3 separate regions of the Homo sapiens genome follow, and regions 2 and 3 are each linked to region 1. Evidence: fine-mapped expression QTL. A gene starts in region 1. Each other region holds a variant in brackets. All regions are shown on one strand. Distances are from middle to middle. Region 1 holds the start of CWF19L2 (CWF19 like cell cycle control factor 2). Region 2 overlaps LOC105369477 (a long non-coding RNA gene). Region 3 overlaps CWF19L2 (CWF19 like cell cycle control factor 2).

Evidence for each region.
Region 2: its variant is fine-mapped to the expression of CWF19L2 in breast (GTEx, PIP above 0.99). The same link has a PIP of 0.9 or more in left ventricle, lung and unexposed skin.
Region 3: its variant is fine-mapped to the expression of CWF19L2 in whole blood (TOPMed, PIP above 0.99).

What each region holds. Positions count from the first base shown.
Region 1 is chr11:107,453,512-107,461,702 of GRCh38, reverse strand. It overlaps CWF19L2 (CWF19 like cell cycle control factor 2), which reads left to right and starts at 3,878. Exons shown (of 18, transcript NM_152434.3): 1 at 3,878-3,991; 2 at 5,927-6,037; 3 at 7,131-7,253. The coding sequence starts at 3,887. RefSeq lists an enhancer at 3,594-4,099.
Region 2 is chr11:107,259,326-107,267,516 of GRCh38, reverse strand. The region is part of intron 1 of LOC105369477 (a long non-coding RNA gene); the gene reads left to right. Among named protein-coding and RNA genes, the nearest start is that of CWF19L2, 190 kb to the left of the region's middle. The variant C/T (reference allele first, on the strand shown) is at 3,742.
Region 3 is chr11:107,413,294-107,421,484 of GRCh38, reverse strand. It overlaps CWF19L2 (CWF19 like cell cycle control factor 2), which reads left to right. Exons shown (of 18, transcript NM_152434.3): 9 at 3,198-3,291; 10 at 5,187-5,276. Among named protein-coding and RNA genes, the nearest start is that of CWF19L2, 40 kb to the left of the region's middle. The variant A/G (reference allele first, on the strand shown) is at 4,639.

The DNA of each region.
Region 1 (8,191 bases):
CTTCCTTACACCTTATACAAAAATTAACTCAAGATGGATTAAAGACTTAAATGTAAGACCTAAAACCATAAAAACCCTAGAAGAAAACCTAGGCAATACCATTCAGGACATAGGCTTGGGCAAACACTTCATGACTAAAACACCAAAAGCAATGGCAACAAAAGCCGAAATTGGCAAATGGGATCTAATTAAACTAAAGAGCTTATGCACAGCAAAAGAAACTATCATCAGTGAACAGGCAACCTACAGAATGGGAGAAAATTTTTGCAATCTGTTCATCTGACAAAGGGCTAATATCCAGAATCTACAAAGAACTTCAACAAATTTACAAGAAAAAAACAACCCCATCAGAAAGTGGGCTAAGGGTATGAACAGACACTTTTCAAAAGAAGACATTTATGCAGCCAATAAACATATGAAAAAAAGCTCATCTTCACTGGTCATTAGAGAAATGCCAATCAAACCACAATGAGATACCATCTCATGCCAATTAGAATGGCGATCATTAAAAAGCCAGGAGACAACAGATGCTGGAGAGGATGTAGAGAAATAGGAATGCTTTTACACTGTTGGTGGGAGTGTAAACTAGTTCAACCATTGTGGAAGACAGTGTGGTGATTCCTCAAGGATCTAGAACCAGAAATAACATTTGTCCCAGCAATCCCATTACTGGGTATATACCCAAAGGATTATAAATCATTCTACTATAAAGACATGCACACGTACGTTTATCTCTGCACTGTTCACAATAGCAAAGACTTGGAACCAACCCGAATGCCCATCAATGATAGACTGGTTTAAGAAAATGTGTTACATATACACCATGGAATACTATGCAGCCATAAAAAGGATGAGTTTATGTCCTTTGCAGGGACATGGATGAAGCTGGAAACCATCATTCTCAGCAAACTAACACAAGAACAGAAAACCAAACACCGCATGTACTCATAAGTGGGAGTTGAACAATGAGAACACATGGACACAGAGAGGGAACATCACACACCAGGGCCTGTTGGGGGGTGAGGGGCTGGGGGAGGGATAGCATTAGGAGAAATACCTAATGTAGATGACGGGTTGATGGGTGCAGCATACCTCCATACCACGTGTATACCTATGTAACAAACCTGCACATTCTGTACATGTACCCCAGAACTTAAAGTATATATATATATATATATATATATATATATATATATATATATATATATATATATATAAAGAATGTGGGTACATGTCTAAAGGACACAGGAACCAGCTTGAAAGGGCTCTCACTGGCCTAACCTGGACCAATTTGAGGATCAAAATAAATACTGATAACGAATTTTTATCCCACTGAACAAAAACAGGAATCCACTGAGAAATTATGAATCTGTATTATATAAAAATAAATAACTTGAAAATTTGGTACATGATCTACATAGTTTCAAAGAACCACTTCACAAAATACTTATTATAGAAGGAAAAGAGGTACTTTACAGCAGAGAAGCTCTGCAGATGCCAGTTTATTTAAATGATCAGAATTAACATCACCTGTAATGGAACAAATGGAAATCATGCGCTACCCAACAGGATGCAGTAAGACCGCCTCACTTCTGTGATCGTCCTGCTTAAGAGGCCAAATTTGAATTTAATCACAAAAGAACCTCCGACAAACCCAAGTTGAGTGACATTCTATAACACAACTATCCTGCAATCTTCATGAAACTTTTGTAGTTAATTGTGATCATCTGACCTATTTCTGGATCATAGGATTTAAATGAAAGAAACTGAACTAGGCTTTAGGAAAAGCCATCATTTTTCTAATAAAAAATGAGGCCAGCTTAGCTAACAACGTTTACCCTTTGTCCTTTCTCTTTATTCTTGTTTATCAGATGCCGTGAACAGATGTGAAAGAATATGATACCCTGCTTGTGACTACAAATACTAAAGTCACAGACTGCAACAAAGCGAAAAAGGATAAACTATTTGGCTCCTTCAGCAATTGCACCAAGCCTGGACCAGTTACTTTTAGGCTCCTTGTTACGTTATCCTTTATTTGATTAAGCCATGTGACTGGATTCGCATTAGGTGTGGCCAAATGCAAACCTAGCCAAAATAACCTGCTTTTTCTTTCTTTTCTTTTCTTTTCTTTTTTCTATTTTAACATATCTAGTTCCCCTCTCTAACCCCAACTTTTTTTTGGGCAGTTTTATTTGTATTGCATGGTATTTACAAATTAATTGAGAAATGATTTTTTATGATGTTTTCTTCTTTAAGCACATAGTATACCTCTCCATTCGTTCTAGTCTTTTTGGGGAGCTTATGCAAGATTTTAAAGTTTTCTTCATATAACTTTGCACATTGCTCTAGACCGAATGTTTGTTTCCCCAAAATTCTTATGTTGAAATCTAATCCCCAATGTGCTGGTATATGGAGGTAGGGACTCTGGGAGGTGATTAGGTCATGAGAGCAGCACCCTCATGAATTCCTATAAAAGAAGTTCTAGAGAGATCCCTCTCCCTTTCCGCCATATGAGACACAGCAAAAATACTGCCCTCTAGGAACCAGGACACACCTTCACTAGACAGCAAATAGCCCAACACCTTGATTTTATCCAGCCTCCAGAACTGTAAGACATACTTGTTTGTTATTTATAAGCCATCCATTCTATAATATTTTGTTATAGCAGCCTGAACTGATTAAAACACACACGTTTCTAATATAATCACAGTTTATTTTTATTGAATTGATGCAAAACAGTGAAATGGATGTTTTTCTGAATTCCAAGAGAATCTGAAAAGACGTTGATGCTAGTTATGACAAATATCAGTCAATGTAGTCAGTTGATTAAATATTACAAGGTCGATTAGTAAATTACATTTTAAAATAAAATGAATACTTTCTATTGCATATCAAACAAGTAGGCATTGTGTGTTCAAGATTCAGACTCATAGAATGGTAGTGAATGTAAAAACTCTTGGAAAGCTTCTTGCAAACACACATTAAATTTTATGAAACCTGAAGAGAAAGAGTATTTACCTCAACCTGGCTTATGTTACTTATTTTTAGCGTCTTTAAGGTATCGTTTATAATTAATTCCCCAGCCTTCTTCTTCTTGTAAATGTAAGCTTAGTGTCTTATGTTCTCAAAGCACTTCATCACCTTAGAATGTCTTATTCTTCTGAACTTAAAAGTTTTATGTTTGGGCGATACATGCGTAAAACAAAACAAAGAAATCTCCGCAGAAATAAATAAGTAACTGTCCATTGTAATGAAAAATGCTTGGATGGATAAGTATGAGTAAATAATATGGGGTCAGAGGAAAAAATATAATGTAAACTTCTAACAAGTTAAGCACGGGTAAATTGTGAAGTGCAATGCAAAATTCACATGAGTGTTTCATATATTAAGTAAAATCCACCAAAACAAAACACTGAATCTTCAAGGCAATTCTGTCCTTCCTGCCAGCTGCCACTACCTTTCTGGCAGCCTCCCTTTATCCCATTCCTCCAGCACAGGGAAATGATGCTCTGGCGACAAAGGGTACTTCCGCAGAAAACTTTTGAGAGGTACCAACTTAACTTCCAAGAGCTTGTAACTTACTCCGGTGATTTTAAGACGAAATTGGTGAGAAAGCTGTTAATATAGTAAAAAGTGCATAATAAATATATACGGGTATTAATCCTGCTCACAATCGCACCCAACACCTGAAAGAATTAAACCCTCCAACACCCTTCGGGTCTTTAAAATCTGGGCTGCGGTAATCCGAGCCCTAAGCGACCTCAGATGTGCGCATGCCCTGTTGGTGGAGCCGTGCTCCTCCTTCCTCGGGTCCGGAAGTCCCGGTTTGTTTGTTAAATTACGACCGTCGTAAACTAGAATTTTCTTGCGGCTTCTTAGCTTTACGATGGCAACAAGTATGGCGGCTGCTAGTGGTAGATTTGAAAGTGCGAAGAGTATCGAAGAGCGGAAAGAACAGACCCGGAATGCCAGGGCCGAGGTGTTGCGCCAGGTACCTCTGTTTTGGGGCTTTTGTAGTTATTTATTGTTGTGGGAGTTGAGGGTTCCCGTAAGCTAGCCCACTCACCCCTTCCCTTACCTCGTCAGTACTGAATCTCACCTTAATTTGGGTGAGTTCTCCCTTTGCAATGCCGGTAAACCCTTTTGTAGCTACCGATTTTTTAGATGTTCTGGCAGGTGCCAGTTGCTAATTCTCTTTTCAGGCAGATCTGTCGCTTTTTCTCCAAGTTTCTTTACCTTTTAAGTTACCCATTCTTTACATTTCTATCACTCGGACTGCACACTTTGTAGGTCCCCTGCGGCTTGTAAGGACTCTGCCAGCATGTCTCGCAGCCTCAGTCATTGCTACTGCTGTATCTGAAATGAGATTTTCCTTTTTCGGAAACACATTCAAGTCACACTTGAATAGACTCAGTTTGACATTTCCTCCTCCTGTCTCTATTGGTATCAATTCCAGACTTACTGTAAGCTCTTACCAATCCAAACAAAAGTTAACACCAATCTCAGTATATTTAGCCTGTCACAAAAGATCGCGAAACATTGTATTTCTCACTAAACTTCAGATACATAGAGGTAACATACAAAGAATGGAGAAAGTAAGCTTCTGAATTATCTGACAATCTATTCAATATGTAAGAAGTGTGGCAATGAAAGAGAAAAGTTGCAGTTGGAGAGCAACAGAGAATTCAGTGAGGGTTTTTGTTTTTATTTAAGTTGGAAGAGTTTTAAACAAGTTTAAATGCAAATGAGAAGGAGCCAGCAGAGAAGAGGGAGAGGAGACTCTAAAGGGAAAATGACATAGTTTCAAAATTTGGCAAATAATTTGAGGGTGAAGCAGCCCCATTCTCCTTTAATCTCCAATTTTCTCACCCTGTTCTTTGGAGTCCATCATAAGCCCTGCTCTTTTCTCTGATATCGATTTTTCTGTTTGGTATATAACCATTGTATTCATCTTCTTGCCTACACCAAGAATTATTATATGCACCCAGGGAAAAGCTAGCTGCAGAATGTTGGACTACCTCTCCATGATTTTCCCTTTTCTGGAATATTAACTCTTCTAGTTCTTGTTGCTTCAGCAGTTCTCTGATATAAACCTTTAATAAATTATTTTTATATTTGATTAAAAAAAAAAAGAAAATGACTACAGCCAGGTTTTAAAGGGGAAGAGTGGGCGATTAGTCTTGGGTAGGTGAAATGTTGGTATTGTTTCGTAATTTCAACATATGTAATGTGTGTGTGTGGGTATATATATATTATTCATTCTTTTCTCTTTGGTATTTCCAGCAGTTTTTGGAGGGAGTAAGTTTCGTAAGTTGAGATAAATCTTATAGTAGAGATATGCATAGAATTTGAAAAGGACCAAACTGAGCTTTGGAGTTACAGGGAAAGAAAGAGGGCAGGAACGATTTCCTAGGAAAAACTTGCTTTGTTTGACTATCATTGAAGAATGGATAAAAATTACCAATATGATCCTTTCTTTATACAGAGATGATTCTTCCTGAGGCATTTTTGGGGCTGGGTATTGGGGCTACAGGCATTGCATATTGAAGGCGTGGAGGTCTAACTGTTGCAAAAGTCTTAAGGCAGTAGCCATGGGAATGGTGAAGGGAAAAGGGATTCCAAGTCATATTGAGCTAGGGAGCTTAGAGAGATGGGAGGGCCTGGACTCAGTCCCTGGATTCTCTCTGATTGGTAACTCAAATCACTGGAGATTGGAAATGCAGAAGGAGAGATTTTTGCTTTGTTTTGTTTATTTATTTATTTTTTTATTTTTTTACACTGGAGAAGCAAATCCCTGGCAAGGAATAGACATTCATTCATGAGTGGATATTTTTGTATAAAAATGACAGAGGTTTTTGTTTTCCTTTTTTTGTGAAACCCAGTTGGGTCAATTGCCAGTTTGTCTTTTTTTTTTCTTTGGTTGTAGGCTAAAGCCAATTTTGAAAAAGAAGAAAGGCGTAAAGAACTTAAGCGACTTCGGGGTGAGGATACATGGATGCTACCTGATGTGAATGAGAGAATTGAACAGTTCTCACAGGTGAATACTAACAGGTTTACGTGATGTAAGGATATCTGTCCTTTTTTGCACGTATTCAAGTTAATATTGGATGAATAATTTTATAGAATGTTTTCATAAGTTACAAAATGAATATCACATAGTTGGCATTGCTGAATAGTTTCATCTCTTTGGCAGAGGTAAGATATTGTAATATTTTGGACATTATGACTCAAGTTTTGTTATTTGAGTTTGGCTAGTAGAAGACAGCTTCAAATTTCTGGCCCACTATAGCAAGCTTATAGGCCTAAAAATTTATGCATTTTAAGCTTTATGTATTTATTTTATTTTATTTTTTTAGGTCTCAAGCCTGTTTTCCTATAATTTTTTTAAAAATTATTTTTAATTGACAAATAATAATTGTGTAAATTTATGGGTTAGAGTGTGATGGTTTGATCTATGTATACATTATAGAAAGATTCAGTCAAGCTAATGAACATATCCATCACCTCATCAACTTATTTTTTTGTGGTGAGAACGTTAAAAGTCTGTTCTTCAATGGCTTTGAAATAGATAATACCTTATTATTAAATGTGGTCATCAGTAATAGATCACTAAAACTTATTTCTAGTGTCATGAAAACTTTGTACCCTTTGATCAACATCTTCCCTTTCCCTATCCTTGCTCCTTCCCCTAGCCTCTTCCTATAATTTTAATTTGTGCTATCTTGTTATATTTTTTATGGCCTAATAGTCTTGTATAAATTTTTGGGGAGACCATAGAGGGATATTATATGTATGTGTGTTTGTGTGTGTATAGATGCATGTATACATGTTTGTGTATATATGTGTTTATTTGATTATATTTGTCACATTAATCTACAAATAAAGCCAAAATTTTCCCAGTATTTTTCTGGTAAGAAGTCTCAGTTATATGATTTATTGATAGTGCATATATTATAGAAGGTGTGTTAAGATTTCCTGAAAGATTTTATTTATTTAGACATATTCTTGGTCTTATTTCATCAGAGATTGAAAGTTTTTTAGAATGTGGTTTATTTTTTTTCTCTCAGAATACATCCTTTTAAATTAAGATGAAATTAAATTATTTTCTTGCCTGTTCAAAATGATTGTAGGAACACTCTGTGAAGAAAAAGAAGAAAAAAGACAAGCATTCAAAAAAAGCAAAGAAAGAAAAGAAAAAAAAGAGCAAGAAACAGAAATATGAAAAAAACAATGAGTCATCTGATAGCTCATCAGTAAGTATGTACTAAAATTAATCAAAGCAGCTATTTGAGAACATTTTATTTGAATGTGTAACTTATGGGAAGTTAAAATACAAGAAAACGTAAAAAATATATTACTAGTTATGATATGAAAATATCTGGGATACATCTACTTAGAGATGTCCAGAAAATATTGGAAATGTTGATCTTGAATTTCAGAGAAAGGCTAAGAGGATAGGGATATGATTTGGGAATTATTGCTAAGCACAGCACTGGATCTTGCCCAAGGCCTGCTGTAACAATTACCTGGCTACAGCTGGTGTTCACTCAAGGCCCTGGGGCTCTGCAATCAGCAGGTGATGAAGCCAGCCAGGCCTGCGTCTTTCCCTTCAGGGTGGCAAGTTCCCCCAGGCCTGAGGGTGGGTCCAGAGGTGCCATCAGGGACCCAGGTACTGGCGTCAAAAACCTTAGACTTGTACCTGGTGTTCTATTGAACTGTGGCTGAGCTGGCATTCAACCTATGAATGGCAGTCCTTCCCACTCTTCCCTTTTCACAGGCAGAGGGGCCTCACCCTGTAGCCACCACCATAGACCCACAGGTAGTACTGGCAGGCTACCACTGATGTTCCCTTAAGGCCCAAGAACTCTTCAGTCAGCTGCCCGGCCTGGGACTCACCCTTCAGGGCAGTGGGCACCCCCTGGGCCAGGGCAGATCCAGAAATGCTATCCAAGAGCCAAGGCGTGGGGCTGGAGACCCCAAGATCCCTCTTGGTGTTCTACCACCCTGTGGCTGAGCTGGTACCTAAGGCGCAAGACAGAGCCCCCTTTACTTTTCTCAAGCAGAAGGAGGCTCTCCCCATAGCCACCACAGCTGGGAATGTGCTGAGTCTCACCTGAATCCAGCAAGTCTCAGATACACAGTGAAGGCCACAGTGTAGTACCCGATTATTGGTGCTGGTTATTCAGGGCCT
Region 2 (8,191 bases), 190 kb after region 1:
TAAATTATATACAATTAAAACAATTATCAAATTCATATGCACACATATTACACATATTTATATGTAATAATTGTAATCCTATAGATTAACAAATGAGTTAATATTTATTATTTGTTTTGCATATTGTCATGCCCAGTAAATAATTTCTGATTGGTTTCATTCCATTTGAGATTCATTAGTAAAATAACTGCAATTTGTAAGTTGAACTAATTACCACTCAATCAAAGAAGCAGTACTGACAAGCGTCAGAGAAATCTGCCTTAAGGAGTCTTTGGCTGAAGAGCTATGTTGAATATATGACTAGAAAAAACAACACAAAGATGAGCGTTTTACTTCAATATTTTTTATGGTTTTTTTTTTTTTTTGCCTGTCAGTTGGATTTACTATCCGGTTATGGCTGATCACAGTGGGAGACATAGGTGCAAATAAAATAGATATTTATGAGCTTTGTTTATTTTATGAGGTTATTAAATTCTTTTATAAAATAAGAACTTAGCAGTGCTAAGATTTTTTTTCTTTCATTCTACATCCTGAAGTTCAGTCCTAGCCTGTGTCATCCAGTCGTTTCCCAGCATCCCTGTATATTAGGAGGAAATAAATCTAATATTTAAAAACTCTAAGTGGCATTCAGGAGAGTTTTGAATTTTTAATGTGAACATACATTTTCTTGAGCCAGAAGCCCTTCATCACTTCTCAGCTTTGTGGAAAATATTCCCATCTTCAGTGTCACCAGCCAACCTCCTGGCCTGATCCCGGCTCTGGCTGAACCAAGAGAACTTGTGTTCAGATGGCTAAGGAAGCAAGATTCCAAGGTGGAGTGGAGGCAGTGTGGCTGCCCATGAGGTAAAAGCACCCCAGAGTTCTTCCCAACTTCAGAGCTGTCTTAAAGCTGTGCTCAAAATCTTCATAAGCTGCAAGTGCAGACGAGGAATACTAATTTGCCAAATATGTTCGGAGACTTTATTGCACAACATGGCTCAAATCCTGATTTCCATTGATTGCCAGGAAGTGTAGAAAAGCTGTATCTTTGGAGCAATGGCAAATTTTGCCATCTGTAAAAGTGAATGATATTTCTATTTTAATGAATAAATTTGAAGACAATATTTGAATCCTCATTTCGTCAATAGAGTGCAAGCCTAGCCCTGTACCCGACATAAAATGCGTGCTTAATGCTTGTCAATGGAATAAAGGGAGCTGTACCTTGCTCACTGCATTTCCTACTTTCTCTACTGTATTTTTAACTTGGAAAGAAATGAATGCACCTGCACATCATCTTCATAGCCTGTGCTGCTCTTTATCCTAATTTATTTTTTGGAGGCTCAAACTAGTCAAAAAGCATCAAAGGAGAAAAGTAATAGGTTTACCTCTTTCTCCAGTCTCTATAATCCACTCAAAAACAATTTAGTTACATACAGCAAAGATAGGAATCTGTAACACTGAGCCTTCATGTATAGCCCTTTATCTTCTACATTCTCTAAGGAAAATTCTCTCAGGCAAATTATATGAAAATCCTGAAGGACTTGTGGACACCTGGTAGCTAAGATCAAGTGAAACAGAAAGTAAAATGATTCTTCACTCTTGGAATGAACTGTCAAGTCTCCTTTCCAAATATAATAGGCTGTTAAATGGGACATATGCTGTTTCCTTCAAATTCCAGCTAAAGCCTCAAAGCTAAGGATGATAGAGGCAATGTACCCACACTTTCTAAAAAGAGATGCCAGACTCATCCACGCAGGGCCTGCAGAAAGATAGTGGAAAGGTACCCATCATTCACCTCCAGTCTGTGTAGGAGGCAACTAGAATGTCAAAAGACATTTTGATACTTGATAAAGGTTGAATAAATGTATTAGAAGAAAAAGAATGATATAAGGTAACAGAGGGTGAGAATAATATCACTACAAAATAAGAGTATACAGTTATAGAAAGAAAGGTTTCCAGTGGAAAAAAAAATTATACACCGTGAGAATCCTGTTGAATTACATGAAATTTTATACAATTTTTAATTTTGTAATTTTTGTAAATCCTTATAAATGGATCTTATCTATTCCCTAATGTTCCCAACACAAGTATGTAATGTACCTGACATGGAAACTCAGATGTGTGTATGTGAACATGTATGTATGTAAGTTCTGTGTTTATTGGGCTTTATTTTCTACACATTATGGCCTCACCAACCACTTCTTCCTCCACCACCACATTTCTCAGTCAAGAAAAGGAAGAGTATTGGAATGTAATATTCTTAACATTTGCAGTGTTTCTGGAATTGTTGAGAAAACTACTTATAGCCCATAGAAACTATTGTATAGGAATGTCATGTGAGAATATTTCTGTTGTCCCAGGATTTCAAAGTTAGGAAAAGAAGTGTCCACATACACCAATATTCTAGGTCCAGAGAACTGCCAAAATTGGCAGCAGCCATTTATCCACATAGCTGACTGAAAATATTCTAGTTCAGAGAATTGGCCTAACATGGCCTCTCTGCTCCTCCATCTGCCTTTGCTTTTCTCCCACTCCTCATACTTAATATAAGGATGGATCTAGGACAGGGGAGGCTGCCTTTGGTAAGTGAGATGCAGTGCATCTGACAGACTGACTCTATTTTCTCCCATCAAGACCTTCCTGTGTAGAGGACAATAGGGAGTGCCATCTTTTCCTGCAGGGAAGGGAGAAAGGCCCCAGGAGGAGGAACCCTTTGTAAAGATGAGAGAGAAGGCTGGAAGAAAGAGAGACCTGTGTGTTAGTCTCCAGTTGAGTCCTTGCCTAAATAGTGGGCCTGTTAATCTGCCTGTGTTACCACAGCAGGAATAAAGAGAACCCAGAAGGTTATTGCCAGGGTGAGGGGACTGACAGGCAAAAGAGGTCAGAATTTCTTCTCTACCTCGAGGTGCAGAGGATGAATCCCACATGGGACGATGGGTCCCAAAATGTCACAGCTCATAAATGGCTGCCGGGGTCTAGGGGGTGCTGCTGAGGAGCAGGCCCCCCATTAGCAGGGCAGGTTTGAATGGCCACCAGCCCACAGGAATCCCACAGAAAGCGCTCTAAAGAAGTGGCCCTGAACACCCAACAAGGGAGCTGAGGCCTCCCTCAGTTGGGGAAGGAGACATCTGTTTTCTCTCTTCCTCTTTCCCACCTGACAGGGAGTAGAAGGGGTTATGTGAGAGCCAGGCATGTCCCATCCTCCACCACAAGCTGCTAGAACCACAATCATGAGGTGAGCCTGAGATGGGGCTGGAGAGGGAATGGAGTAGGGGAAGTGCTTTGACTCATATATGATATTGAACTTTAAAAATGAACAGAACTGATTCTTAGACATTTTTGGGACATCTAAACTAAGACATTTTTGAAAACCAAAAGTGACTAAAATGTTATGCAGCCTACTCAAGAGGAAGGATGGGTTTGGCCTAGTATTATTGGGTAGTAGCTATTAGGGAAAAAAATGTGTTTTTCTCCCCCCTAATCTCAACAGTTGAGACTCTTCAACACACTGATTGCACCATTTGACACTCGATTCCTTTGGAAAGCAGCCTGAATCTTGGAGAAAACCAGTTTTTTTTTTTTTTTTTTCTTCCCTAGCTGGTTTTAAAAACAATTCCTAATGGGTGACAAGATCTGCTTTTCTGGTGACAGTCCTTAAAAGTTGCTCATTAGCAGTTGATATTTAATGTGAGTGCTTCCTAATGTAACTTCATTTAGGTTATTTTTATTTAATGAACCCTGGAAAGCTGTAATGAAGCTACA[C/T]ACCCCTGTTGTTTTCATGCAGTTCCTGGAGCAGAGAAATTGTACAGACCCCTGAGCACAGCAAAGGTGTGAGAAAGGCATGAGTAAAGTTGGGTTGCAGCAGGTGGAGACTGTCCTCTTCAACATCAGTACAGGAAAAAAATAGCAGTTTCAGAAATGATGACTTTATGTGAACTAAAGTTAAGCAGATGTAAGCTGGAGTGGGAGGATGAGTTCCACAGTCAGAGAGTAGTGATTTGATCTCTTCTTTTCTCCCTCTCCTGTCTCCCCTCCTAGCCTGTCCAGATCCCATTTATTTTCTTTATTAAGGCTATCTCTTCTTATTTATTCAAACTGTCATCCCTCAACTAAAATCCATATTTTTTTCTCCTGCTTAAATGAATTGTGAGTGTAACAGGTAGCCTATTCAAGGAGAAATTAAACAGTGTGCCCGTTGAGAAACATTCTTTAAATGTCCACAGTGAACATCACAGGTCACTCAAAATAGGTCTTATACCGAAAAGTGTCATATGGCAGCCTCACCTTAGTTCTGCAACATTAAGTCAATTAGATCATGTTGAGAGTCTCTTTTAGTTCTGTGTTTGTAAGGAGCTGGTCATCTTGTCTTAGGAGATGAGTGTAAGAAGTCCTTACTGAATTTGATTGGCTGAAGAGAATGACTTAGCCCTGAAGAGGTAAGACAGACAGTGACTCTGGGCACTGCAGTTAGGGTCACTTCAACCCGGACACGGTGGCTAGCATTACAGTGCCTGGTTTTTCCCCAGGATGTGACTGTGAGGGTAAGCTGTGAACCCAAGCAAGAACCTCACCATAGATATGCAGAGTCCAAACCTGGCATCATTGTGGGAGGAAGCCCATGGAACTGTGCAGGCTCTTCTTTGAGCTCAACTGAGAAGGATATGAGCAGAAAGTAGCTTTATTCTTGCACACTATTGCCTTTAGGCAAGCTCTATTGACACCTTCTTCCCTACTTCTGCATGAAGTCCTGGGTAGATCACATGGTTTTATCAAGTCATTTCAGCTACCAATGAATACTGCCATTTTTCTGGTAATAAAAGTGTAGACCAGTCTCATATATAAAATTTAGTCTCTCATCCAATCCAAAGTTTCTCCCCTTCCCCAAGTGAATCCAATCCAGGCTGGGAAAGCTGCAGTGGAAAAAACATCATGATCATGCTTTAATTACGTCCTTCCCCATCCTCAATCCCCTAAGTCTCCTCTGGCTTTACCAGAGTTAGCAAACAAATAAAACACACCAAAAAACAAAAACAAAAACAAAAACAAAAAAAAAAAAAAACACCTGACTTGTGACCTGATATCTCTGGAGGGTGTCAGATGTCCCAAAGCTAATCTTTTTCTCATGAAGCAGTTCTGTGGGATTGTCAGAGAATCCCATTACTGGAGGTCTCTTTCCCACTGTTTCCTGGTACAGGTGCATCCCCCTATGAAGGGGGTCTGACTTTTTGAAGTCTGTCCTGCATAGACTGCTTTTTGGGGGTCACCTAGTCCTCCTGATGGCCCTTTTGGCTGGGATTTTCTTTTCTTTTCTTTTCTTTTTTTTTGAGATGGAGTCTCGCTCTGTCACCAGGCTGGAGTGCAGTGGCACGATTTCGTCTCACTGCAACCTTCACCTCCTGGGTTCAAGCGATTCTCCTGCCTCAGCCTCCTGAGTAGCTGGGACTACAGGCGCCCACCACCGCATCCAGCTAATTTTTGTATTGTTAGTAGAGATGAGGTTTCACCAAGTTGGCCAGGCTGGTCTCAAACTCCTGACCTCAGGTGATCCGCCCACCTCAGCCTCCCAAAGTGCTAGGATTACAGGCGTGAGCTTGGGACTGGGTGCAGTGGCTCACACCTGTTCACTTTACAAACTTAAAAAAAAAAAATCTGTTCCAAGCGTTGGGAATATAGCAGTCAGAAAAACAGTCACAGAAACTTACAGCCTAGTGGGAAGACATCATTACAAATGATCACACAAATAAATTTTCAGCAGGTGCAAATCTTAGTCCATAAGCTCAACATTTAAAAACTTTTATTTAAGTCAGCTTAGATTTGTATTAGAGTTGTCATCTTGACCCACACTGAAAAATTCTATCTCAGCAATTCTTGTCTGCTCTCCTCACACTTCCTTCTGTCTCTCGCCAAAAGATACACAGACTTTTTTTTGTGGCATCAAATACATTAGGAAAGTGCATCCCAGTAATGGCCACGTGGTCACACTGGATCATGCCCATGGACCACTGTGGCAGAGGGTCCCTTGTGGGCTGATGCTCTGCACTCAGGACTGGGAATCTTTGTGAGGATGGGGCACAGGCGCCTGTGGTCCAGCTGTGCCCTTGGAGGTTTCCCTGCCTCCCTGGGTGCTGCAAGGAGTGGAGTATGTGCTGGCCGCCCCACCACTCAATTGAGAATTACTCCTCTCCTGGCTGCTTCTTCCCTCTTGCTCTACATCTTCCCCTATAATCTCCTCAATGGGGAATTTTTAGGCAAAAACAAACATAAATTCATATCTCAATAAATTATTCTGCCTTAAGTAGTAAGTAGACTTCACACTAAGTACCAGGAAGGAAACAGACATGGAGCTGGCCATAAGTATAATAATGGGACCTATTAAATAATTTAGCTGTGGGGTGGGGACGGGACATCAGAAAATGCTTCTCTGAGGACATTACATTAAAGCTGAGACCTGAGCAATCGGGAGAACAGAGTATCCCAGGCAGATGGACCATATTAGTTTCCTTGACTGCCATAACAAATTGCCATAAAATTGTTAGCTTAAAATGACAGAAACTTATTCTCTCATGGTTCTGGCAGCCAGAAGTCTGGAATGAAGGTGTTGGCAGGGCTGCACTTTCTCCAGAGTCACCAGGGCAGAATCTTCCTTTTTCTCTTCTAACTTATGGTGGCTCCACACATTCCTCAGCCTGTGGTTGCATGACTCCAATCTCTACCTCTATTTTCACGTCACCATCTCCTCTTCTTGCTTTTCTTGTCTCTTATAAAGATGTCTGTCACTGGATTTAGGGCCCACCTAGGTAATCCAGAATGATCTCTTCTCAAGATCCTTAACTTAATGACATCTGCAAAAACCCTTTTTCAAATCAGGTCACATTCACAGGTTCTGGGGGCTTGGTATGGATGTATCTTGTTTTGGGCCATCATTTAATCCACTATAGGGACTAACAATGCAAAGTCCCTGAAACCATCTTTCCTGGACTCTCAGAGTAGTCCACCCCTAGATTACTCCTTTACCATGCCATATAGCATTTGGATTATTTTATTTTGTGTTTGAGATGTTTTGCATCTCCAGAGCATACATTGATTAGAGGCAAGAACTTTATATCTACTATGTTTGCATCCTACCCCACCTCTAGTGTCCAGCACAATATGGGCACTCGAGACACTTGAACTCACTTGTAGATTTAGAGCCATGTTTGTTTCCACTATTTGGGGGACAAAGCAAGGACATGACAAGTTTTGAAATGAAAATGAATAGTAGCATCCTAAATGAATGAGATTGCTCATCTGTGGAAATCTATTCAGGAAGAAATGATTCGGATGAGTGTTCCTGATAAGATGAGGGAGCTTCTCAGCTCCCAGCCAGGGACCCACGATGCTCCCTGCAAGAAGGAAGGCATCAATTTAGAGTGTAGCTAATGAAAGGCTGTCATCTTAGAAATGGTGACATTTCTGTCTCAAAGGTATGTTGTAATGACAGAAGTCTTTGGTGACTTTAAGGAACATTGAGACAGCAAGTGTTTGGTAAGAATTCGTCATTGCCAATCTGTCACTGTCAGAGGCACAGAGACACTGTGTCTGGAGGATGTGAGCTTTCTAGTCACGTTTAAAGCGGCGCTGCCTAGTGAAGTAGGGATAAGACCAGCAGCATCTCCCAGATTCCTGTTTGAATTGCATGCTTGCCATGAATCTTCTGGTGACAAGTCGGTTTCCCAGGCAATTTGACAGCTGGGGGTGAGGTGACAGGAGTGGAGCCAGGGAGCTATACCCTGCACAGTGGACAAGAGTCTGCCAGTCACCATTAAGGTCTGCTTTCTGTCCAAATGAAATTGGCTCTCATGGGTGTCTTGTGATTTTAGGGAGCAGGAATCAGTTCCCAGAATGTGGCTGATCCTAAGGAGAGCAAATACAGTTATCTGAATTTGCCATACCTGGAGCTAGATCCTGCTCTTTTGGTTGTCTGCCTGTGAGGGGGCCCAGCCTCAGGCATCCCACTTCTCTCCTACCCCTGAAGTTTGCTCTTTAGGAGAGTGTCTGGGGAGCAAAGGAAGGGAGGAAATATCAGCCGATGAATAGGCCCAGCCTTGAAAATTGACTTAGCTGCTGAGGAATAGATGAGTTGAATGGGGTGAAAAGACAGAGAAGTGTATTGGGGAAGGTGGACATAATGTTTTCAGTGAAATCATGCTTGGAGCTAAGGCTTCTGCTACTG
Region 3 (8,191 bases), 40 kb after region 1:
AGGTTTATCAATTTTATTGCCTTAAATATCAGCGTTTGGTTTCACTGAATTTATTGTTTTTCTATTTTCTATTTATTTTACTCTGATTTTTATTGTTTTTTGAATTTTTTAAACTTTGTTTTAATTTGCTCTTTTTCTGCTTTCTTAAGGTGTAAGATGAGGTGATTGATTTGAGATCTTTTCTAATATAAATATTTAGTGCTATGAATTTCCCCCTGAATTAGCAGCATTCCATCAGTTCAGACATGTGTCATATAATTTTCCTTTGGTCTTATTTTTGACCCATGGGTTATTTACAGTTGCGCTATTTAGTTTCCAAGTATTATAGTTGAGGATTTTCCAGAGACTTTTGTTAATGATTTCTAATTAATTTCATTGTGATAAAAGAACATAGTTTATACAACTTGAATTCCTTTAAATTTATGAGACTGTTTGTATAGCTTAGAACATGGTGTATCTCAGGAAATATTTTGTATGCACTTGGAAAGAATGTGTCTTCTATTCTTGTTGGGTGGTGTGTTCTATGGATGTCCATTTGGGCATGTTAGTTGATAGTATTATTCAGGTCTTCCTTATGCTTGCTGATTCTGTTTACAGTAGTCCCCCTTTATCCATGGTTTTGCTTTCTGAGGTTTCAGTTACCCATGATCAACCATGCTCTGAAAATATTACAGTATTCTGCAAGAGATACCACCGTCACATAACTTTTATTACAGTATATTGTTGTAATTGTACTATTTTGTTATTGGTTGTTGTTGTTAGTGTCTTACTATACCTTATTTATAAGTCAAACTTTAACATAGGTATGTATATATAGGAAAAAAAATACTACAGATAAGGTTTGGTACTATCCAAGATTTCAGGCTTCCACTGAGGGTCTTGGAACATAACTCCTGCAGATAAGGGGGGGGACTATTATATTTATCCTATCAAATATTGAGAGAGAGGTATTGAAATTTATAGCTATAATTGTGGATTTGTTTATTTCTCTTCTGTCAGTTTTTGCTCATGTATTCAAACGCTCTTGCTGGATTGACTCCTTTTTCATATGAAATGACGTTCTTTGTCCCTGGTAATATTGTTTTCCTCTGTAATCTTGTTTGTTTGATATTAATGTAGCCACTTCAACTTTCTTTTGACTAGCATTAACATGGTATATCTTTTTCTATCCTTTTATGTTTAACATACGTATGTCTGTGTATTTATAGAACATTTCTTGTAGTTGAATTTTGCTTTTATATCCATCTGATAATTTCTGCCTTTTAATTTAGGTATTTGGACCATTTATATATAATGTTGTTGATATAATTAGGTTCAAATATGTAACTTTGCTATTCGTTTTCTATTTTTCCCATCTGTTCTTTTTTCACTTTGTCCTCTTTTTCTTACTTGTTTTGGATTATTTTTATGATTCCATTTCATTTCCTTGGTTGCTATATATTTTTTTTTAAATAGTGGTTGCTTTGTCTTTGATGGTGTACTATACCTTTAACTTATCATAGTCTATCTTCAAGTGATATGCTATTCCTGAATGGTGTAAGAACTTTATCATTGTTTATTTATATTTCTCCCTTTCTTTCCTTTCTGTTAGTGTTCTCATACATTTTACTTATACTTGTTATAAACCTCAAATATATTTTAAAAATAGTTATCTTCCGTTACATGTATGGTGGGATACTTAAGGTTGTCCCACAGCCCTCTGATGCTCTTTTCATTTTTACAGATTCTTTTCTCTGTTTCATTTTTCATATTGCTTCAAGTTCACCAAACTCTACTTCTGCAGCTTAATTTTCCATTAATCTTACCCATATATTTTTTATCTCACACATTGTAGTTTTCATCTGTAAAAGTTTATTTTGGATCTTTTTTATATCTTTGTTGTGTCTGACTTTTTGAACCTATGGAACACAGTTATAATAATCACTTTTAGTATCCTTGTCTGCTGTTTTTTACATCTGTGTCAGTTCTGGGTTGATTTTGACTGATAGCATTTTGTTCTAATTATGGGTTGTGTTTTTCTACTTATTTGCCTGTCTGATCATCATTGATTAGATACTAAGTTTTACAGACTACCTTGTTGAGTGCTAGACATTTTTGAATTTCTATAAATATTCCTGAGCTTTGTTCTGGAATATTTATATTGTTCTGATTAATTGGAAAACATTTGATCCTTTTAACTTTTGTTTTAACATTTTTTAGGTGGGCCCAGAGCAGCATTTAGTCTAGGGCATGCTGTTTCCCACTAATGAAGCAAGACTCTTTAATACTGTGTCTAGTGCTTTTTGAATTACGTGATTTCCTAGTCTAGCTAGTGGGACTGGATAAGCAGTTCCCAGGAATGCCAGGTACTCTACCTCCAATCCTCTGGGCTAGTTCTTTCCCTGACTGCAGGTGGTTTCTTGCTGAGTACTCAAGGGGAACCCTCTGCAGTTCTCTGGGATTTTCTTATGGTGCAGCTTTCGCTTCTTTGGTACTCTGTTCTGTGAATTCTAGCTGCCTTGGAATTCTTGGACTCCTGGCTATGTCTCCTTTACTCAGAAATCCTTCAGACTCTGACTGAGGTCACTGTCCTGCACTGTAGCCTTGAATTATTTCTTAAGGCAGTAAGCTAGGGAAATCTGACCTTGGCTGGAGGTTTCTTTTTTTGTGTGAGGCTTCCATAGTATAGGTTTGGCACATGATACCAGTTTTAAACTAGTTTATATTATTTGACTATATGTTATGTTCTGGACTGACTTTACAAAAAAGCACACGATCAATGCTTTTATTCTTTGAATGCAGTTAGATATATATATCATTTTATAGTTTCTTAGATTATTAACAACTTATGTCGAATGAGAAGAGTTTCCAAAGATGTATAGAATTATGGCCTGGTTCGAACGTTTTTTGTTTGTTTCCTTTTTAAAGTTACGAGTATGGGGATATTAAATAAGAAGAGTTGATAAGTACTATTTATCTCATTGTTATTGGGATTTTGATCAGTTATTATAACTGCCATAGGTGGTTGTGGCATTGTAACAGAGAACTTTATCAATTTGTGGAAAAATATTGAGTTTAATTTACATGTATTACAATCATGATCTGCTATTGGTACTGAATGCTTTGTTGAGGTCAGTTAAAATAACATTTGAGTCTTGATGTTATTGCTTGCATCGCACCTATATTTCATATGCTGTTAATCTTTCCTATTCCAATAGCAGTCCAGAGCGTGAGTCCATTCACATCCTGAGTGTTGATGAGAAGAACAAGTTGGGAGCCAAGATTATCAAAGCAGAGATGATGGGGAATATGGTAAGACTCTTAGATGTTGCTTTAGAGAATAATGATTAAATGTTTAACTTCTTATGAGTAATTTTAGAAGTTCCTTAGCAGTGTGGATATAGCACACTGTGAAAATAACTGTTGGTTATTGATTCCTTAAAGAAATTCTCAGGCCTGGCACCATGCCTGTAATCCCAGCACTTTGGGAGGCCAAGGCAGGCGGATCACTTGAGGTCAGGAGTTCGAGACCAGCCTGGCCAAAATGGTGAAACCCTGTCTCTAGTAAAAATACAAAAATTAGCTGGGTGTGGTGGCGCATGCCTGTAATTCCAGCTATCGGGGTGGCTGAGGCAGGAGAATCGCTTGAACCTGGGAGGCGGAGATTGCAGTGAGCCAAGATCACGCCATTGCAGCACTCCAGCCTGGGTGACGAAGCGAGACTGTGTCTCAAAAAAAAAAAAAAAATTCTCGAACCTTTCTGTGAAGAATACTATCTACTTCTAAATAAATGATCTACTTTCTCTGTCAGATCTCTGAAATTGAAGATACTAAGGAACTTCATGCTTTTAAATTTCTTTTTTACTTGGCTATTTACTTTATTCCTGCATTTGTAACTCATTGAGCATATTTAAGGGAGATAAAGATGTCACTTTTTCTACCTCATTTTTGTCATATATTTGTAAGAATGTTTTTTACTTTTCCAAATTACTTAGGAACCTAAAAAGGAGGATTAAGTCATTTATTCAAGTTTTAAGTAAATGTGCTGTGCCTGATACTGTGTTAGATGCTTTGTGTAGGCTTACTCATTTAATTCCTGTAGTAATGTTTGATTTAAGACTAATTTACCTCAGAATTGTAAGAAATAGGGATGATTTGGTAAGAGCTGCATTTATCCATTCATCCATTCACTTATTGTCACATGCATATTAAAATAATATACAGTGAGATGTATATATTTAAGTGCACATGGCAGAATAGCACAGCCAGATATTCCACATCTTGATAGAATAGATTCAGTCATGGTCATATGTATGCACTCATCTCAAACCCAAATATAAGGGATCTTTAAGTAGTCTTATGTTTTGGTAAACTATTAGTACAATACTGTAGTAGAACAAATGGTAACCAAACAAGATATTTCTGTGTTATGTCTAATAAAGGGCATATCTTGCATATGCTGCTCTATCTCTTTGAATCTGATCCTTGGAAACACTGAACTTCCACTCGTCCTAGAAATTGGTAAGGGAAGTAAACCAACAACAGTAACGATAGCAAGAAAGTAAAGTTTGAGCTTTGAAAGTACAGAGGAATTAGTTAAAATAGTGAAAGAGAGGTCATCTAGGTAAAAGGGTGAAATATGTGTTCTTGTGTTCAAGA[A/G]GAACACTGTGGTGGTGCTTGCTATTCTTTGCATGTCACATAAATCTACTTATTTAATGTATTACTTCATGGTTTATTGCTTTATATGGCAGTTGTTTTATATAAATTTCTATAAGTTTCCTAGAGTAAAAATGAAATATCTTCGGAATTTTCATCTAAATTATCAACAATAAAGAAGGTAACAGTTTAAATCTTGTGATAGCTTTTTTGTTACCAATAACCGAAGTTGAAAGTATTGAACTTTTGTAATATTTAGTAATTATTAAAATGTCATTAAGGTTATGTATTTCCTTCATCTATCTCTTCCAAAATATATGTCCTTATAATTATTTATCTTTGAAGCATGTCACAGGTATTCAAGAAGTTTGTAACTGAGATAAGTTCATTAAAAAGTAGTATACTAGGCTATGGGTTGGTAATTGAAATTAGATGAAGGCTACATGAGTGTTGGTTATGCTGTTTTTCCTTCTGTTGTGTAAATTTGAACATTTTGTCGTAAAGAATTAAACTACATATCGCACATATTTTACTTGTTTTTCTTTTTGAAGGAATTAGCTGAACAACTTAAAGTTCAACTTGAAAAGGCAAATAAATTCAAAGAAACTATAACACAGATACCAAAAAAATCTGGGGTAGAGGTAAGTAATAAAAGTTTGGAGAATGTAATTACCTTGTGTAAACTACCACCGGGCAGTGGTAATATTTTATTTTATTTTATTTTATTTTTTATTTTATTTTATCTATTTTTTTGAGATAGTGTCTTGCTCTGTCGCCCAGGCTGCAGGGCAGTGGCATGATCTTGGCTCACTGCAACCTCTGCCTCCCACGTTCAAGCAATTCTTGTGCCTCAGCCTCCTGAGTAGCTGGTACTACAGGTGTGCGCCACCATGCCTGGCTAATTTTTGTATTTTTAGTAGAAATGGGTTTCACCATGTTGGCCAGGCTGGTCTCAAACTCCTGACCTCAAATGATCCACCCGCCTCAACCTCCAAAAGTGCTGAGATTACAGATGCGAGTTACTGTGCCCAGCTGGCAGTGGTAATATTTTAATGTGAGATGTGTCTGTATATGTGTCTGTGTGTTTATGTGTATGCATGCTTGTTTTAAAAAATTTAGTTTTCTATATATTCTCTTACATTCTATCAGTGTGCTCTGGTGGAAAAAAGCCTCGGGCTGAGACCAAGGAGTCTTGCTTTTATTCTGGACTGTGCTGCTTACTGATTGCTTCTGTATGAGTCAAACTGCTTCTTAACTGTCTCCTTCAGAATGAGAGACTTGAATTAGTTATTCATTTCATATAAAACAAATTACTTTGGTCTATGATTAATTCATCTATCTGTTAGTGAACAAAACAAATAAAAACACCTACCTGCATGGAACTTTCATTTGGGTAGGGAGGGAAACAATAAATTATAAAAATGATAAGCAAATTAAAAAATAATACAGTGTATCAGAAAGTTACCCTATGGCAGGGTAGTGGCAATTTTGAGTGACAGGTGGGTTGGTGGCTTGGAATGCACAGGCCAATTCTGTTGAAAAAGTGTAAGGACTTTATGTAAGGACTTGTAGTTAATGGAAGAGTGAATTTCTGTGTATTTGAGTGAAGAGCGCAGTAGTCATAGGGAACAGAGATTTAAAGGCCCAAAGATGGAAATATGTCTGATGTGTAGGAAGAATAGCAACGAGACTGGTGTTGCTGGAGTGGAATAAATGAGAGAGGGAAGTAGGAGATACAGGTTAGAGAGACTATAGGTGGCCAGATCATGTTAAGCTTTGAAAGTCATGGTAAGGAGGTGGACTTTTTTTTCTGACTGAGGTGGTGAGAAACTATTACATGGTTTTAAGCAGAAAACATATTTTGACAGGACCATTCTGGATTCTCTATTAAGAACGGTTTGCAGAAGCTGAAGTAGAGGTGGGCTTTTGTAATAATGCAGATAAGAAATGATAGTGGCTTTGACCAAGACAGATAGTAGCTATGGAGATGGTTAGAAGTGATTGCATTTTGTATTTGTATAAATACTTTATGTATATATTTTGAAAGAAAAACTGACAGGATTTTTATGGTGGTTTAGGTGGGGGGTGGGTAATGGGCTAAAGAGAGGAGGCAAAGAGGACTCCAAGGTTTTTAGCTTGAGCAGCTGAAAGAATAGCCATTAATTGAGTTGTGGAAGAAAAAGGAAGAATAGGTTTTGGGGCAAATCAGAGGTTCTGTTTTGGATATATTGAGAGTTTGGATGCCTGTTAGATGTGGAATAAGTGGAGATGTCAAGTAGGCAGTTGGATGGTTGGGAGTAGGGAGAAGATAGAATTGGGTAGTTGGGAAAAAGTCCTCTGTGCTGGAGATAGAAATTTGGGAGTTATTAACATGTAAGTGATATTTAAATCTATGATACTGCATAAAATAATCACAGGCATAAATGTAGTTAGAAGTTGAACAGCTGAGTTCAACTTCTGCATTACAGATTTAGATGTATATGAATAACTCTAGCTGGGTGTGGTGGTGTGCTCCTGTAGTCCCAGCTACTTGGGAGGCTGAGGTGGAGGATTGTTTGAGGCCAGGAGGTCCAGGCTGCAGTGAGCCATGATTGCACCACTGTACTCCAGCCTAGATGACAGAGTGAGACCCTGTCTCTAAAAAAAGAATAAATAAATAAATAAAAACACTAAAAACAAAATCCTCCCCTTTCCCCCAAAATAACTCATGCAATTTTCACAGTATCCTTTGAGGTAGTCCATGTCATTATTACAGTTTTATAGATCAAGAAACTGAGGCACAGAGGGCTAAGTAACTTGTCCAGGTATACAACTGGTAAGTGCAGGGCAAGGATGTAAACCCACAAAAGTACTTGTTTTTACATGATACCTCTTTTTGATGCTGAAGGACAAAGTCAGCTGCTCTTTTGGAGAATCAGGTTTGGGATATAATGAAGTTTAAAACTGGTTTTAAAGGTCTGTTCTCAAAGATTAATTTACATAATTTACTGTCAGTGTGGGAGGAGATGAGAATGTCAACTTCCCTAGAATTTTCTTCAGGCTAACATCATTCATGACTTAGATAACATTATAAAGAGTGTGTTTATGAAAATGGCTGTTTACACTAAGTTGTGGTACCTAATATTTTTAAAAAGTTTCTTGCACAGATTAAAGAATGGAGAGTGAGAAATTACTAGTAGGATTAAAAAGCAGGGACTGGGACGATAGCTAGAACTAGGTGTACTGTGAAGTCTATCTTACACACTTTTGCCAAATTATTGTTTTCAGGTGTCCTTGTGGTTAGCTGATTTTGTACTCTGAAACTTGAAGTGGTTTATTAGTGCTAACTGTTAGTACCAGATCTTCCTGCAGCATAGCCTTCCACAGTATGGCCCTGTTTTCCAGTCCTACCTCCAAGACTTACACATAACCAGTGTCTCTTTCACATTTACCTATGCTATTTATTATTTGTGCCAGACATCACCCTTCTTCATTATGGCCTTTTTCTAATCCTGTCATACAGTTGCAACATTTTCCATTTTTGAAACCTCAAAGACTTTTCTTTTTAAGATTTTAT